2 separate regions of the Homo sapiens genome follow, and region 2 is linked to region 1. The links come from fine-mapping of genetic effects on gene expression. Tissue or cell type: whole blood. Region 1 holds a variant in brackets; the other region holds the start of a gene. All regions are shown on one strand. Distances are between the middles of the regions.

Evidence for each region. PIP is the estimated chance that this variant, and not a neighbour inherited with it, causes the effect.
Region 2: COP1 starts here. The variant in region 1 is fine-mapped to the expression of COP1 in whole blood (TOPMed, PIP above 0.99).

The regions. Positions count from the first base shown.
Region 1 is chr1:176,091,803-176,099,909 of GRCh38, forward strand. The region is part of intron 9 of COP1 (COP1 E3 ubiquitin ligase); the gene reads right to left. Among named protein-coding and RNA genes, the nearest start is that of COP1, 110 kb to the right of the region's middle. RefSeq lists an enhancer at 4,631-5,130. The variant T/A (reference allele first, on the strand shown) is at 4,051.
Region 2 is chr1:176,203,010-176,211,116 of GRCh38, forward strand. It overlaps COP1 (COP1 E3 ubiquitin ligase), which reads right to left and starts at 4,277. Exons shown (of 20, transcript NM_022457.7): 1 at 3,563-4,277. The coding sequence starts at 3,969. COP1-DT (COP1 divergent transcript) reads left to right here and starts at 4,656. Exons shown (of 5, transcript NR_185981.1): 1 at 4,656-4,862. RefSeq lists silencers at 3,715-4,074, 4,105-4,314 and an enhancer at 4,815-4,884.

The DNA of each region.
Region 1 (8,107 bases):
ATCAGTATTAGCAATAAATGTAAATGGAAACAATCACTAATAGAAATAGTGACATAATAGATTTAAAATAAAGGTATGCTATCTGCCAAAGAAATACTTAAAACAGAGACAAACTAAAAAATTAGAATAACATGAAAGAATACTAACTAAAAGAGAAAAAATAGATTCAAGATGAAAAACATTAATATGGATGAAAACAGCCACTGTATATGAGAAAAGGTTCAATTTAACATAACCCATCTGTATGTAATAAGAGAGCCTTAACATTTTTCAGGCAGAAATTGCCAGAGAAGTGGACAAACCTATTAACACAATGGGAGATAAATCTGCAAGTCAACTGAGTTATGCAACTAGTGTTATGCAAGTAACACTAGTTTATATATGGCCAAATATAAAATTTGATATAATGAATATATAGAAAACACTGTACCTAATTTAAAAATAGGCATTCTTCTGAAGCATGCATAGAACATTTACAAAAACTGACCATGTAATATGTTACTGGATAATATGTTTACAATCTTGAGAAAGGGCAGAATTTCTTAAATGAAACACAAGAAGTACTAATATAAAAATTATAAATTGCATGACATAGAAATTAAGAACTTCTGTTCACCAAAATTAATCATTAAAAAGGTGAGACAAGATACAAACTGTAAGAAGATATTTGCAGTATCCAAAAACAAATGATTAGTATCCAGAATATATCTATTTCTCTAAGACCAACACAAAAAAATGGGGAAAGACTTGAAATGCCATTTCACAAAAGACAAAACATAAAGGACAATAAATATAAGAAAAGGTGCTGTTTTATAGTGGCAGGAAAATAAAAATTAAAGTCGCAACTATGCTCTATTTATTACCACTAAGGTGACAATCATTTTAAAGTCCAACAATACTAATTATCAGCAAGAATGCTGAGAACCTGGAACTCATACACTCATGTAGTGGGAGTTTTAAATTGATAAAAGTACACTGGAAAACAATTTGTTATTAACTCAAAATACAAATTTTGCATACCCAATGCCCTTTAATTCCTCTCCTAGGTACATATCTAGGGAAACTCTTGCACCTGTGGATCTGGAGACATGTACAAAGATGCCCTTAATAGCAAGAACAACAAAAACCCTAGAAGTGCATGTAATGTATACAGATTCAACTGAAAAATTGTAGTATAGTAACACAATGGAATATTATACGTCAGTGACAACTACAGCCACAGGCATCAGCAATTAATCTCTGAAAAAACAAATCTCAGAAATCTTACTATAATATTTTTATAAAGTTCAAATACAGCCAAAACAAATAATATAGGGGTGTGTATATATGTGGTAAAACTTTTTTAAAAGTCAACATATTGATAAACATAAATATCAGAAAAATAATTATATTTGGATAGGAAGCAGGTGATAAAATTGGTTAGGAACACATGAGTAACCTGTATACTACTTTTAATATTCTATTATTAAATAACTAACACAGAAGCCAGTTCCATAAAAGTTTTGCTATATTTCTAATTTACATATTAATGAAATATATTCCTTTGTAGGTACCAACATATTTTTTAATAATACTAAGATTGTAATTCTAGATTTTAGCCTACAGATCTCTTCAAAAGTGATCTGGCTGGGCATGGTGGCTCATGCCTGTACTCCCAGCAGTTTCGGTGGCTGAGGTGGGCGGATTACAAGGTCAAGAGATTGAGACTATCCTGGCCAAAACAGTGAAACCCCTTCTCAAAATATAAAAATTAGTGGCCAGGTGCGGTGGCTCACACCTGTAATCCCAGCACTTTGGGAGGCCGAGGTGGGCAGATCACGAGGTCAGGAGATCAAGACCATCCTGGCTAACACGGTGAAACCCCGTCTCTACTAAAAATAAAAAAAAATTAGCCAAATGTGGTGGTGGGTGCCTGTAGTCCCAGCTACTTGGGAGGCTCAGGCAGGAGAATGCTGTGAACCTGGGAGGCGGAGCCTGCAGTGAGCCGAGATCAAGCCACTACTCCAGCCTAGGTGACAGAGCGAGAGACTCTGTCTCAAAACAAAACAAAACAAAACAAAACAAAAACAAGTTAGCTGGGCATGGTGGCGCACACCTGTAGTCCCAGCTACTCGGGAGGCTCAGGCAGGAGAACCACTTTAACCCAGGAAGCGGAGGTTGTAGTAAGCTGAGATTGTGCCACTGCACTCCAGCCTGGAGGCAGAGTGAGACTCTGTCTCAAAAAAAAAAGGAAAAAAAAAAAAGTGATCTGTTTAACGGAAAAACAGATAAGACTTCAAAGCCTGAAAGATGAGAATAATTAACAATAATCAGGAACAGGGCATATAAAACAAATAGGAAGTAGTCAGCAACACTGTTTTGTTTTACTTATTTGGCTTCCAGTTTTTATAGTAAACTCATTTTCTCAATTATTTTCCTGTATTTATTCTTGACATTTCTTAAATTTATTCAAAACCCTAGAGTAAATCCTTTACTCAAAAACTCTACAAGCAACTAGGTTGCCTTATAATTGTTGGTAAATATGCAACACTTGGGTCATCATCATATGCCAGTTTAATTATTAAATTATAAATAATATTAATATAAAAAATAGAAATGTGCTATGTATGCAGAGATAAATGTTTTGAAAATACATATTGGATGCAGATAGTCTACAAGGCCAATCTTCAAATAAAACAATTTCAAGATAAGCTCTTTTACCTAGAGGTAGATATAAATACGACACAAATCAAACAGAAATATTTATCAACTATGTTAATTTTACCTAGCTTGGTTCTAAAGAAAAATGATCACATTTAGCAAACTCAAAGATAATTAAATTTCACCACAGCAAAAACAGAAGCATATCTTATTTGGTCATTGGAAAAAGTTAAAAAAAAAAAAAAGTCCTCAAATAAATGCTAGAAAGTTAATAGGCATACTATGAAGATAAAAGAGCAAATTAGATGATCATACAAAAAGATAATTTATGGTCAGCCTGTAAATTATGAAAAATCTTTACACATATAACTACTTTAATTCCCAATAAATGCAATTAACATGAAAACAGAAAAGCAGCAAGCAAAACTGAATATTCTATTTCATATACTTAATATAAAATAGCGGAGTACAAAAGCAATGAGATCTTCAAAAGACTAATGAAATCAATGCTTGTATAATAAAATAAGTAACTTACCATGGCAAAGTTCCCTGTCAATTCCACTAAGAGGAGACTCCTACTTCAAATGAAGCTAAAAGTGTCTGTATGATTGACTGAAACCTGAAATTTTTCCAATCTACAAATACTTTTTTCTCAAACTAATTTCATAAATTAACACTGCATGGAAAACTATCATTATTTACACAATAAGTAAACTTTATAAGTTCAAGGAATACATACAAAATAATAAAACAAATTAACTATTAAACCCATACACACATTTTCATACAAGCAGATTTAATGACTAGCTTTAAAGCAAAGAGTTACAGAATTTAGAATAGTGGTTATCATAGTGTGATCCCCAAAATGTGGCTGAGGACCACTGGGAGTTCTCTAAGATCTTTTCAGGAATCTGGGAGGACAAAGCTATGTTCTTAAAAATAGTAAGATGTTATTTGCAGCCTGGTGTGGTGGCTCACGCCTGTAATCCCAGCTCTTTGGGAGGCCAAGGCAGGCAGATTGCTTGAGTCCGGATCCAGACCAGCCTGCGCAGCATGGCAAAACCCTGTTTCTATAAAACACAAAAAAAAATAAGCTGGGCATGGTGGCATACACCTGCAGTCCCAGCTATTGGGGAGGCTGAGGTAAGAGGATGGCTTGAGCCCAGGAGGTAGTTGCAGTGAGCTGAGATCCTGCCACAGCACTCCCGCCTGGGTGAGAGGGCAAGACCCTGTCTCAGAAAAAAAAAAAAAAAAAAGATGTTCTTTGCAATTTTCCTTGTGCTTATGTTTGTACTTGTGATACAAAAGCAAAGATCAGTATAAGACTGCTGGTCTCTTAGCACAAATAAAGGCAACAGCACCAAATCCGACTGGTAGACACTGTTCTTCATTACTATTCATAATTTTTTT[T/A]AAAAAAACATATAAAAATCTGTTAAGAATCAGTTCACTTAAGGATGCCCTTAACAAGGTCACACAAATTAAATCCTGCATTAAATCCAGGCCTTTGCATGTATACCTTTTTACTATTCTGTGACAAAATGAGAAGTATGCACTGTACTTTATCTGCTAGCAGGACTCTCTCTTGCTTTGCTGAGCGTTATTTTTCCTTTTTACCCAATAAATTCCACTTTCCTCATCCTTCTAGGTGTCCACAAGCCTAATCTTTCCTAGTTGTGTGACAAGAGCCTGGTTTTAGCTGAACTAAGGAGAGAGTTCTGCAGCATTTTTGCTGCCCAATGTGAGGCCAAAGGAAGGGTGAGTAAAATGTGAACCCAAAACCTCTCACTTTCGCTTCTGAGCCTTTTGGTCCTATGGCATGCCTCTTCTTTTTTTTTCAGGACAGTAACAGCACCTATCTTTTCTTTTATAATACTGGAGGTGGTCCACACCCACTTAAATGGCCACAGGCTCAGGCTCAGGATGGTTGGGCGAATGGCAGCTCCCCACTCCCCTTACCTCCTGGTTTGGGTGCATGGCCATGTCTGCCACATGAGTGCAGTGTCCAACGACCACACAGGGCGGGAATGAGCCACAGCCACTGTCCAGGCCCCAAGGCGGCCTCAGGGGCCTGGGCCCTGCATGGTTGACTGGCCAGACTACCATTGGTCTGAGCCAGGGGGAAAGGAACCCATTTGTATAAGAATAAGAGGTTCTTCTCCCAGGGTTACCCTTACACTATGAACTGTTTTTTCTCTACCTATTAGCAGTTAACTTTTACGTGAGAGGATTTTTTTTTTCCTTTTTAGAAAATGTTTTACAAGGCCAAGACCCCAACTATCACTGTTTATATTCTCTGTAAAGTTTTAACTATGAAAAAGGATTTATATTGGTCTTAAGCTGTAGCCAATCTGGTCTGCTTTACATAACTTTCTGTATGGTAAGTAGCAAACTTTGCTGCAGGCCTCCATCTTGTTTTACGTCCTTCAGAGCCAGACCTGTAACCACATGACAATGTTTTGTTCTAGCCTCTGCCATTTTACATTTGTGGCCCGGGGTTCGATCCTGGCTTAGGGAATGAGTCCTTTTTGGTTTGATACCTGTGCAACCTTTGCTATTTGTTGATTCTCTTCCCCTCCACGAAATGCCTTGGATTTTACTTTCTTTGAGCCTTTAGTAAAGTTTGAAAGCCAGAAATATTGGCCACTTGGGATGGCTAAAGTCAGGTAATAGGGGATTTAAAAGGATTTTCTTAAAGAACACTCAGCTTAATTAAAAGTAGATATCCAAGTTGTAGGCATAGGTAAAAGGTCTTTATGTTTTTCTCTTCTAGGACCTTGTTTTGTTGAAAAAAAAACGACTGAATTATTTTTCTCCATTTTTCCTTGCCACTCTCAATGCACACATGAGAAGGAAGAGACCTCTGTTTTCCTCATGGAACACCAGTAATTAAAAGCAAATAGATCCCTCTCAAAATCTGTTTTTGCCTCATTTATGCCTGTTTGTTAGGCCTTAGAAGCTGAATGTTTTCCTAGCCCTGTCTCTTAAAGGCTCCACCTGGAGACCATTAATTCAATTAGGAGACTGGCAAATGAAAGATCTTATGGCAATTGGGTTTTCTTCTGTCTATCTGTGTACATATATATGTGTTGTGTGTGTGATGTCTATAAAAAAGCTCTTTTTTTTATAGAGCTTTTTTTATAGACTGGCTGGGTGCAGCAGCTCAAGCCTGTAATCCTAGCACTTTGGGAAGCTGAGGCAGGTGGATCACCTGAGGTCAGGAGTTCAAGACCAGCCTGGCCAGCATGGTGAAACCCCATCTCTACTAAAAATACAAAAACTAGCTAGGTGTGGTGGGACATGCCTGTAATTCCAGCTACAAGGGAGGCTGAGGCGGGACAATCGCTTGAACATGGGAAGCGGAGGTTGCAGTGAGTCGAGATCATGCCACTGCACTCCAGCCTGGGCAACAGAGTGAAACTCCATCTCAAAAAAAAAAAAAAAAAAAGCTCTAATTAATTGGCCTAAAGGAAGATAAACACTTTGATCAAATGTTTTTTAAAAGGAAAATAAAAGCTGTAGTGCCTTTCAGTTCACGTGACTTTAATCTTTAAGAAATAAAAAACAGCCTTAAAGATTATTGGTAAAATACAGATGTCATCAAAATGTAAATAGGTAAACTAAATTATATAGGTCAGATATTAGGTTTGCTAAATGTTTTAAGGTTATAACCTGCCTTTTTTGGTTTTTGAGAACGATCTAACTTGATGGCTCCACATTTGGTAAAACCTGGCGACATAAGGAACTAACCATGCCCTTAATTATGCTGGAAGAAGTCAAACCTTGGCTGCACCAAGCAAATAATTAAAACAATTTACCAGGTTTTAAAGGTAAAATTGCTAAGAGTTACCATTATAATATGTAATTGAAACTATTGGAAATAGATTTACATGTGAGGTGTGTTATGATGTGTTTTTAATAAAAGATTATAAGAAGGTGTGGAAATGTAAATTTTTGCCTAGGGTCTAAGGATTGTTCTGAATTAGATAAGATAAAGCTAAAAGTTTAACAGAGCGAGACTCCATCTCAAAAAACAAACAAACAAAAAAAGCTAAAAGTTCAAACAAGTGATGGAAGGATTGTAAAAATTAATCTTCCAAAATAAATTCTCTGTGTTAACATATTGACTAACTTCAAAAAGGCATTATATGGTTTTTCTGTAAACTAAGCATTGAAATAAAAGCAGAAAAACGTACTCTTAAGGAACTAATCTGCTCTTTAGGAAAATTTGTAAAGGGTTATAAAAGATTTTTGTTTTTCAAATTTCTGAGTCATCATTTTGGCAAAATAAATAACTTACCTGGAATAATTTGGAATTCTATTTCATAACATCAAGTGTTTTAAACCTCTAACATATTTAACAGGCTTCCCAAAATCAAACTTCAGTTTCAAAATTGTCTTTCCTGATGCCTAGCTTTTGGATGCTGCAGAGAGTCCCTGGAGTATCCAAATGAGGGGTAAACAGAACACGTTTACTTACATGAGATTGCCAAAATGGTGTTCAATCTTCTTTAGGTTATATTTTGGTGACTACTACTAATATATGTTTCAAAACTGTATGGGATTCCAAAAATTCTAATGTCTAAAGTATATGCTATCCATCATAATTAAGGTTGTTATGTTAAGTTATTGTAAACCACAGAGATAATCAAACTACTTTGTCAATTGTGCTTCTAACTGTAACTACCCTGGACATTTTGTTATTCACAGACAATTGCTGTCTTGTTTTGATCCTTTTCAAAAAATGGCTTATAACAAGCTATAGGACTCTAACAGGTACTCTCAAATACAGGTTTCTAATAACTTTGGAGATTGTAACATTACAATACAGGAAAAACGTGCAGGACTCATGAAGAACTAAAATGTTGATGAATATCAAGCAAAATAAGAGTTAACTAAATGAACTGAACTCACCAAAAACTGAGGTAATCTTTTTAACTTTTGCTTGGAATATTGCTGATCCTTGTTTTGTTTTTTCATAGTCAAGGAAACTTATTTTGAACTATTTACAGTCTTTAATAAATGAGTATGGCACACTCCTGTGAAAAAAATTTGGAGCATATTTGTCTCTCTCTCTCTCTCTCTCTCTCTCTCTCTCTCTCCCTGGCTTCTCCAGAATTTGGAAACTAGTTGTAAGTGTTCTTAACTTATGGCAATATAGTTGTTTACATCAGTGCAATAAGAATCCATTTTCTTTTGCAACTGGATGCAACTGGAGAAATGTTGTTTTACCAAGGCTTAACTTGAAGGGTATGCTTCCCTTTAAGGAGTCAAGCTCGACTTGCAGAGCCAATAAAAGCCCCTTGGGAAAAATGGCCTCATACCCTTGTCTACACAGCTGCTGTAGAGGGTTCCTGACCTGTGATAAGTAAAGAATGTCACCTTCTACAGGCCCAGAGCTCCAAGTTTATTTTGAGACGTTAAGAGAGCAGGATCACCCAACTCACAGGCATTTGAGGATACAAACTGA
Region 2 (8,107 bases), 110 kb after region 1:
TCCTAACTATTTTCTATCAAGCAGATGATTAAAAGTCAACCTTCTCGGCCGGGCGCGGTGGCTCACGCCTGTAATCCCAGCACTTTGGGAGGCAGAGGCGGGCGGATCATGAGGTCAGGAGATCGAGACCATCCTGGCTAACACAGTGAAACCCCGCCTCTACTAAAAATACAAAAAATTAGCCGGGCGGGGTGGCCGGCGCCTGTAGTCCCAGCTACTCGGGAGGCTGAGGCAGGAGAATGGCGTGAACCCGGGAGGCGGAGCTTGCAGTGAGCCGAGATCGCACCACTGCACTCCAGCCTGGGCAGCAGAGCGAGACTCCGTCTCAAAAAAAAAGAAAAAAAGTCAACCTTCTCATAAAGAGCTTACTATCTACATGCAAACGTATACTTCTGCTGCAAGAATGGCTGGGACTTGCAGAGGTAGAAAACTTCATTTGAGATAGCTGGAAAAGCTAATACAAAGGCAGTAGTTATAGAATTGTTTAAAAAAGGAGTCCGTATAAAAAACAGAAGTCATCTTTCAAATACAGACCAGACTCACAGTCTAGTTAAATGAACCGTAAGAAAATTTTGCAAAAAACAAAATAACAAAGACTTCCTCTGAATGTTGAAAATGTATCCAATGTCAAGCTAAATACTACTGTCCTGTATTAGATTCTCCATCAATAAAACACTGTTAAAATTATTCAACTTGATAATACCTTCAATCTTTTGTGTAAAATAAAATATAAAAATGCAACCTAAACCCCTAAAATGTTTATGAATTCTTCAATTAAATATAAACTTACTTTCAAATATAAGTCAGGAGAGGCCAATGTTTATTACTGAAATTAGGTACGTGACTATTTAAATCAACAGTTCTCAAGGAGGGGAGAAGGACAGGTCCCTATCACCAGGGGAGCATATGCAAATTACACCACCCACCCCAGCCTCCAATTCAGGTACGTCTTCTTGGGATGTGGGCAGGTAAGAAAAGGGAGTGGTGAGGGATAAAACATTTATCTCATATGATTATGAAACAGCTGCTTCTCCTCCAATCTGTGCCGTTTAAGAACCACTGGGCTAAATACATGTACTCGAACTTACAGATCTGAAACTCTCTAATTGCACACAAAGAAAACACAAAGTTGAGAACTGGGAAATCTGAGTTCTCATTTTGTCCTTACCTGTCCAACGACAAACAAAATTACTTCTCTGTGCCTCAATGAGAAAATAATTAGTATTGTATTAAAAATAAGTTATATATAACATCACAGAATTGTTCTAAGGATAAAATAAAACGTGAAGCATAAGCATATCTTTAAAATGTCCCATAAATGAATAAGAAATTATCATTATTTGAACTTGGGCTTCGTTTAAATATAAAAGCATAGAATAATTTGAATTGGTTCACAGTTTGACCTTGGGGCATACAAGACAAGACCCACAGCCAAACGGGGGGAAAAAAAAAGAAAAAAAGGATTCCTTGGGCCTTGCCTAATCCATATCATCCTACCCCAAGAGTCTGGACAAAATCAAACCTGGCTTGAGTTTTAAATCAGATTCTCATTAATTAATTCTTCTGAATATTAAACCTCACCAGAAAAAGAAATAATTAACTAATGAGATTCTTAGAAAGTGAAATACTCAGGACCACGGTGGCTCACACCTGTAATCCCTCCCAGCACCTTGGGAGGCCGAGGCGAGCAGATCACCTGAGGTCAGGAGTTCAAGACCTGCCTGGCCAACATGGTGAAACCCCGTCTCCATTAAAAATACAAAAAATTAGGCAGGTGTGGTGGCAGGTGCCTGTAATCCCAGCTACTACTCGGGAGGCTGAGGCTGGAGAATTGCTTGAACCCGGGAGGCGGGGGTGGCAGTGAGCCAAGACGGTGCCACTGCACTCCAGCCTGAGTGACAGAGCAAGACTCCGTCTCAAATACAAATTTTTACTCTTTTAAAAAAAGAGTTCCCAATTCCCTATAGCATAGCCTGCAGTGCACTGAACTTCATATGGTGCCTGGCCGACAGTGAATGTCATACAAGTATCTCTTGAATGACAATGATCGATTCCTTATTCCTCACATCTTTTACTTTATTTTAGTGTACTTACACGGAGGCTAACATGTTTGTGTTCGTTAAGTATACTAAAAATTAAAATGCAAACAGTGGCTAAAAAGACAACTAAATTATGCACACCCCACTTTGTTTTATTAGCTTATTAGCTACTCGCACTATCGACTGTGTAGAAGTGCAAACACTTCTCAGCCCCAACCATAAACTGCTTATTTATAAATAACAATCATATTACAGCCCAAATGTTCAATGAAAAACAGATTAATTCTGATAAAGAATAACGTACAAAAAAGCAGAAAGGTGAATAAAGACATCATTTTTCTGCAGGAACTAGAAACCGTAAGTCTAATCAATAACTTTCCTAACAGTTCCAACTTCTAGCTCTATCTTATTTAATAACACCAACTCAGACCATCTTCAACCCTGATCTGAATCAACTTCCCTCATAATGACTGTGCAAGCAGCCAACTTCCTACATGCCTAATATTTGATCAACAATTTCCTCAAAAAGGAAAGTACGAAACACTACCACTTCTTAAGCAGCTAGCTAACAGCAATTACTTCTCATAATCCTACCAATATCTAAAATCCAATAAAAATTCCAAAACACTCTCAAGCAAGACAATCAACACCACCTTTCACTTCATATGACTAACCTCTCTATCCCAAATGTCATGACTAAATGTTACTCTGTATCATTCAAGATGCCAACTATGACGACAAAATGTCTATACCTAGCATTTCTCAAGTCAGAAGTTCCAGTATACTCTGTTATCCAGTATAGTACAGTTACATCTGACACAGGGATGTTATTTAACAAACGTGGTTCTCTCTTTTCAAGACACTTGGTGGAGAAGTGAAAAATCTGTTAACAGACTTTGACTACAGTCGTCTCAACAGCCGATTCCTAAGTGGCCCATCCTTTGAAATGGAAGAAGATATTTACACATACATACGATAGGTACTTACATTATTATAAAAAGCATGTCTTTATAAGACATCCATGCTTATGTTTACAGCATCATCTACCATACTTCAAATAAATTTTGACCAACTCCACCCCTCTGCATCCGAGGAAGCTTAGTCCTCTCCATTTGCAAATTTCATTCATCTCAACAAGGACTCCTGATTGACTGAGTGTTCAATTCATCAGAGAGGCAAAAATTTTAAGACTCAACCTCTCTGCCAACTTTGTTATCCAAAACCATTTATTTGACCTTCCACCTCTTCCCTCGTCATTCGTTAAACTCCCTTCACTTCCTCCTCAGCAACACTTACCTACCTCTTTATTATCCCCACCCTGCCTCGCTACTCCAACATTCCTTCACCCCACCAACCAGGAGCTCGAATGCCTGCAAACGCTCGATTCCCTCTGCAGACACCACCACAGCACCAGTATCCCAAGCTCTCCAACAAGCCACCCCCACACCAGACCCCCCGCCCCCAAGCCTAAGCGGCAGAAACTCATAATTTAGGGACAAGGAGGGAGTGCTCTTCAAACCCACCATACGAAGTCGTTGCTTTTGTCCTCGTAGGAGTTGATGAGCCCGTTGCAGAGGGGGGCGAGGAGAGGTCGCTTCCTGCTGCCGCTGCCTAGGCTGGAGCTGCTGCCTCCTACGCCGGCGCTGGGCCTGGCCGCGCAGCTGTGCCGGGACAGGCCCGTGGACACCGCCCCGCCGCCGCTACCCGATACGGCGGGCGCCACCAACACAGGCCGCACCGGGCCCCCGAGGCCGCCCGAGCCGGCGGCCTGGGCCACCCCGCCGGACACCAGCGCTGCCGCCGAAACCGCCACGGAAGGCGGCGACGGGGAAGAGGATAAAGACGAGGAGGCGGAAGTCACCGAGGAGGCCGCCGAGGACCCGGGGCTTGTCCCAGCGGAGCCCGACCCGGCCTGGCGGCTACCAGACATCGTGACTCCCTCCCCTCCAGCCGGGCGCTCGGAGGAGAGGGACCGCGACCTCGACCCTCCGCCGCCTCCCCTCCCCTCAGCCTCAGTGCATCCTGAGGACGCCCGCCGAGCCGGAGGTGGGGCTGAGGAACAATAAAGTTGCGTTTTTTTTTAAGGCAGCCACACAACAGCGTCCCACGGGAGGGGGCGGAGGAAACTAAAAAAGCGGAGTAGAAGGCACTACCGCTGTCGAGGCCGCCGCCGCCACCGCGGTCCCTGTAGCAGCCAACCCCGGCGCGCCGTGGCCGGCCGTGCGCGCGCGCGCGAGCGGCGGAAGAGGCGGGCGTGGCGGGGGATACAACTGGGGACGCAGCGGGGCTGCGCTCAGACGCTCAGGGCGCGCCCTCGGGGTCGGGGCTCCCTGGCGAAGGGAGTCTGTCTGTCCCAAGCCGCTTTCGTTCCAGAAAACGTGCCAGAGGGCAGGCCGTCTTAATACAGTGAAAGAATTGAGGAGACTGGAATGAATGGTATAGGTGGTGGGGTGGTTTGAAAGACGGGAACGTAGCGGGCGGAAACTCTCGAAAAGCGACTGCGCAGGCGCGCGCCGGGCGCGGACGCTCACGGGTCACCCAGGGTATCCGCCCCAAGCGGAGAATATCGGCGCAAGCGCGGAGTAGCCGTGTCACGCATGCGTGCGAACGCACCACATTCCGGAACGGGAAGAAGGAGCTGTCTCTCTCTTCTGAGGGGTAGGCAGGTGCTTCCGAATCGCGGAATGTAGGTGCTCATAAGCTGGAGACCCACGGAAAGAACCTAGAAGCTCCGAGCGGTTGCAGACAGCACTGCATTGAGCCAACGACTCCTGCTCTACTGATGGTGATTCCACAGCTTTGTGAGGAATAAGTTAAGATGAAGTCAGTGAAGTTTTCTGCGAATTGCAAACATTGTAGCAAGTGTTACCAATTTTATTAGTTCGACCACGACTTCACTCCTATATTTTGAAAAGCTGTTTGCCAAATTGAACATAACAATAATGGGAAAACAGATTTTGCTCAATCAGACCCAGCTCAGTCGGAACCTAGGTTTATTGTGGATCTGATATAATTCTAGCACAAAACAAGGAAACCTAGCATTTAATACCACCAGAAAATATACAATTTCTGGTAGGCTTTTTTAGAATATTGAAAATTGATTATAGGCGGGCGCGGTGGCTCATGCCTGTCATCGCAGCACCTTGGGAGGCCTAGGGGGTCGGATCACCTGAGCCTGGAGGTGAGGATCAGGCTGAACCTGAGGTTAGAGACCAGCCTGGGCAAGATAGCGAAACCCCGTCTCTACAAAAAGTACAAAAAATTAGCTGGGCATGGTGGCAGCAGGCCTGTAGTCCCAGCTACTCGGGAGGCTGACATGGGAGGATTGCTTGAGCTGGGGAGGTTGAGGCTGTAGGGAGCGGAGATCCCTACACTCCAGCCTGTGAGACAGAGACCCTGTCTCAAAAAAAAAAATTTTTTTCATTTGCCGCATTCTAAGGGGTGGGAGTTAGAAACAACTGTGTGATTTTATCCTTTTCAATTCTATCATTCTATGATTCTTATATATTTATTTGGGAATAAAGTGTGAAAATACTCATGACTTAGTAAACTACGTGCGTATTCAAGGAGGTAAAGGAAGGCAAAGGTTTTTAAAATTTAAAAAAAAATGAGAATTACATAATTGTTTTTAAACCGTTATCCTTGGCTACGAAGATCAATAACAAGGTGACACCAGTCGGAAACTGGACAGGAAGTTGCTGGGCAGATGTTTTTGCGGAAGTATTTTTTGTGTAAGATTGTGGCTTTTGGCCAGGTGCGGTGGCTGAGGCCCATAATTCCAACACTTTGGGAGGCCAAGGCGAGTGGATCACCTGAGGTCAGGAGTTCGAGACCAGCCTGGCCAACATGACGAAACCCTGTCCCTACTAAAAATACAAAAATTAACCGGGTGTGGTGGCATGCACCTGTAATCCCAACTACTCGAGAGTGTGAGGCAGGAGAATCGCTTGAACCCAGAAAGCGGAGGTTGGAGTGAGCCAAGGTCGTGCCACTGTGCTCCAGCCTGGGCAACAGAGCAAGACTCCATCTCAAAAAAAAAAAAAAGATTGTGGCTTTTGCAGGTTTTTGTGATAGTTTTTGTCATCAGGTGTGCAAGCATGAGACCCCTTCTCTTCATGACCTCTGAATCTATTTTTCAGTGTTTTAAAAAATATATTAGTGACTACCTCCCACCCCCTTTTGTTTAAGAGATGGGGCCCCCCACCCCCTTTTGTTTAAGAGATGGGGCCCCCCACCCCCTTTTGTTTAAGAGATGGGGCCCCCCCACCCCCTTTTGTTTAAGAGATGGGGCCCCCCACCCCCTTTTGTTTAAGAGATGGGGCCCCCCACCCCCTTTTGTTTAAGAGATGGGGCTGGGATGCAGTGACTGTTCACAGGCAAGTCTATAGCACAGTACAGCCCCCAAATTCCTGGGCTCAAGCAATCCTGCTGCCTCAGCCTCCCAAGTAGCTGGAACTGTAGGTGTGTACCACCGAGCCCATATAATTCCATTTTGATTACGACAGCTTTCACGGAAATTAGGCATTAAGTAGGGTAAAAACATTTATAATGTTTTAAAGATTAATTTTTTAGGAGATTAATCTTTCAGAAGAGGTGGGAAATTAGGAACAAAGACTAGGAAAAATTAAAGCAGTTCGAGCGTAAATGATAAGATTCTAGATTAGGATGGTGACAAAGAAAGGGAATATTCTGAGAAAAACACTAAGGAACTGATGGTATAAAGTTTAATTACTCTCTGTAAAACTGTCTTTACCATCCTTGAGAGTATGACCCATATCTGTCATATTCATCACTGTCTATATCAGTGCTTGACACAATGGTCAATATGTTGATTAAGTAAAAATGATGAAACACAAACAGAAATGACTCCAAACATGACTTCTGGGTAACAATAACGTAGTGACAAGATTGGAGGTGTCCAGTAGATGGTTTAGTTTTGAATGTTTTGAATGAGTGTGGGATGAAAAAAACTCAAAGAATAGGCAGTGGTCGAAAACACAGGGTTAAGGCACAGAAGAAAGTTCAGCACATGAGAGACATTTGGAAGTTACTAAGGGCATAGTATATCATCATCAAATAGTTATTATGGACCTATTATTTGCTAAACATATTGCTTCCCCCATGATTCTCAAACATCGGTGCCCAGAAGAATCACCTAGAGAGCTTGTTAAAAACCAGATTTCTGAGCTCCACCTTATGAATATGCATTTGTACCAGCACCCAGGTGAATCTGAGGCAAGTGACTAACACTTTGAAAACACTGTGATTGGCCGGGTGCGGTGGCTCATGCCTGTAATCCCAGTACTTTGAGAGGTTGAGGTAGGTGGGTCACTCGAGGTCAGGAGTTTGAGACCAGCCTGGCTGGCATGGTGAAACCCCGACTCTACTAAAAAAATACAAAAATTAGCTGGGAGTGGTGGCATGCTCCTGTAGTCCCAGCTACTTGGAAGGCTGAGGTAGGAGAATTGCTTGAACCCAAGAAACCCAGGAGGCAGAGGCTGCAGTGAGCTGAGATCGCACCTCTGCACTCCAGCCTGGGCAACAGAGTGAAACTCCGTCTCAAAAAAAAAAAAAAACAAAAAACACAACACTGTCCTGTGATTGATAATGTAGAGAATGTGAAAGAGTTTCCTTCCAGGCCAGGTGCAATGGCTCACGCCTGTAATCCCAGCCCTTTGGGAGGCTGAGGTGGGTGGATCACTCAAGGTCAGGAGTTTGAGAACAACCTGGCCAACATGGTAAAACCCCATCTCTACTAAAAATGTAAAAAATTAGCCAGGCATGGTGGCGCATGCCTGCAATCCCAGCTACTTGGGAGGCTGAGACAGGAGAATGGCTTGAACCCAGGAGGTGGAGGTTGCAGTGAGTCGAGATCGTGCCATTGCACTCCAGCCTGGGCGACAGAGTGAGAGTTTCCTTCCAAGTTGCTTATGCTGAGGACTGCTGTGATTTGAATGTACCCACCAAAACTCAGGTTGAAATGTAATTGCCATTGTAACAGTGTTGAGAGTTGAGACCTTCAAGAGGTCTCATGATTAGGTCATGAGGAGTACTGTTAGTTATTGCAG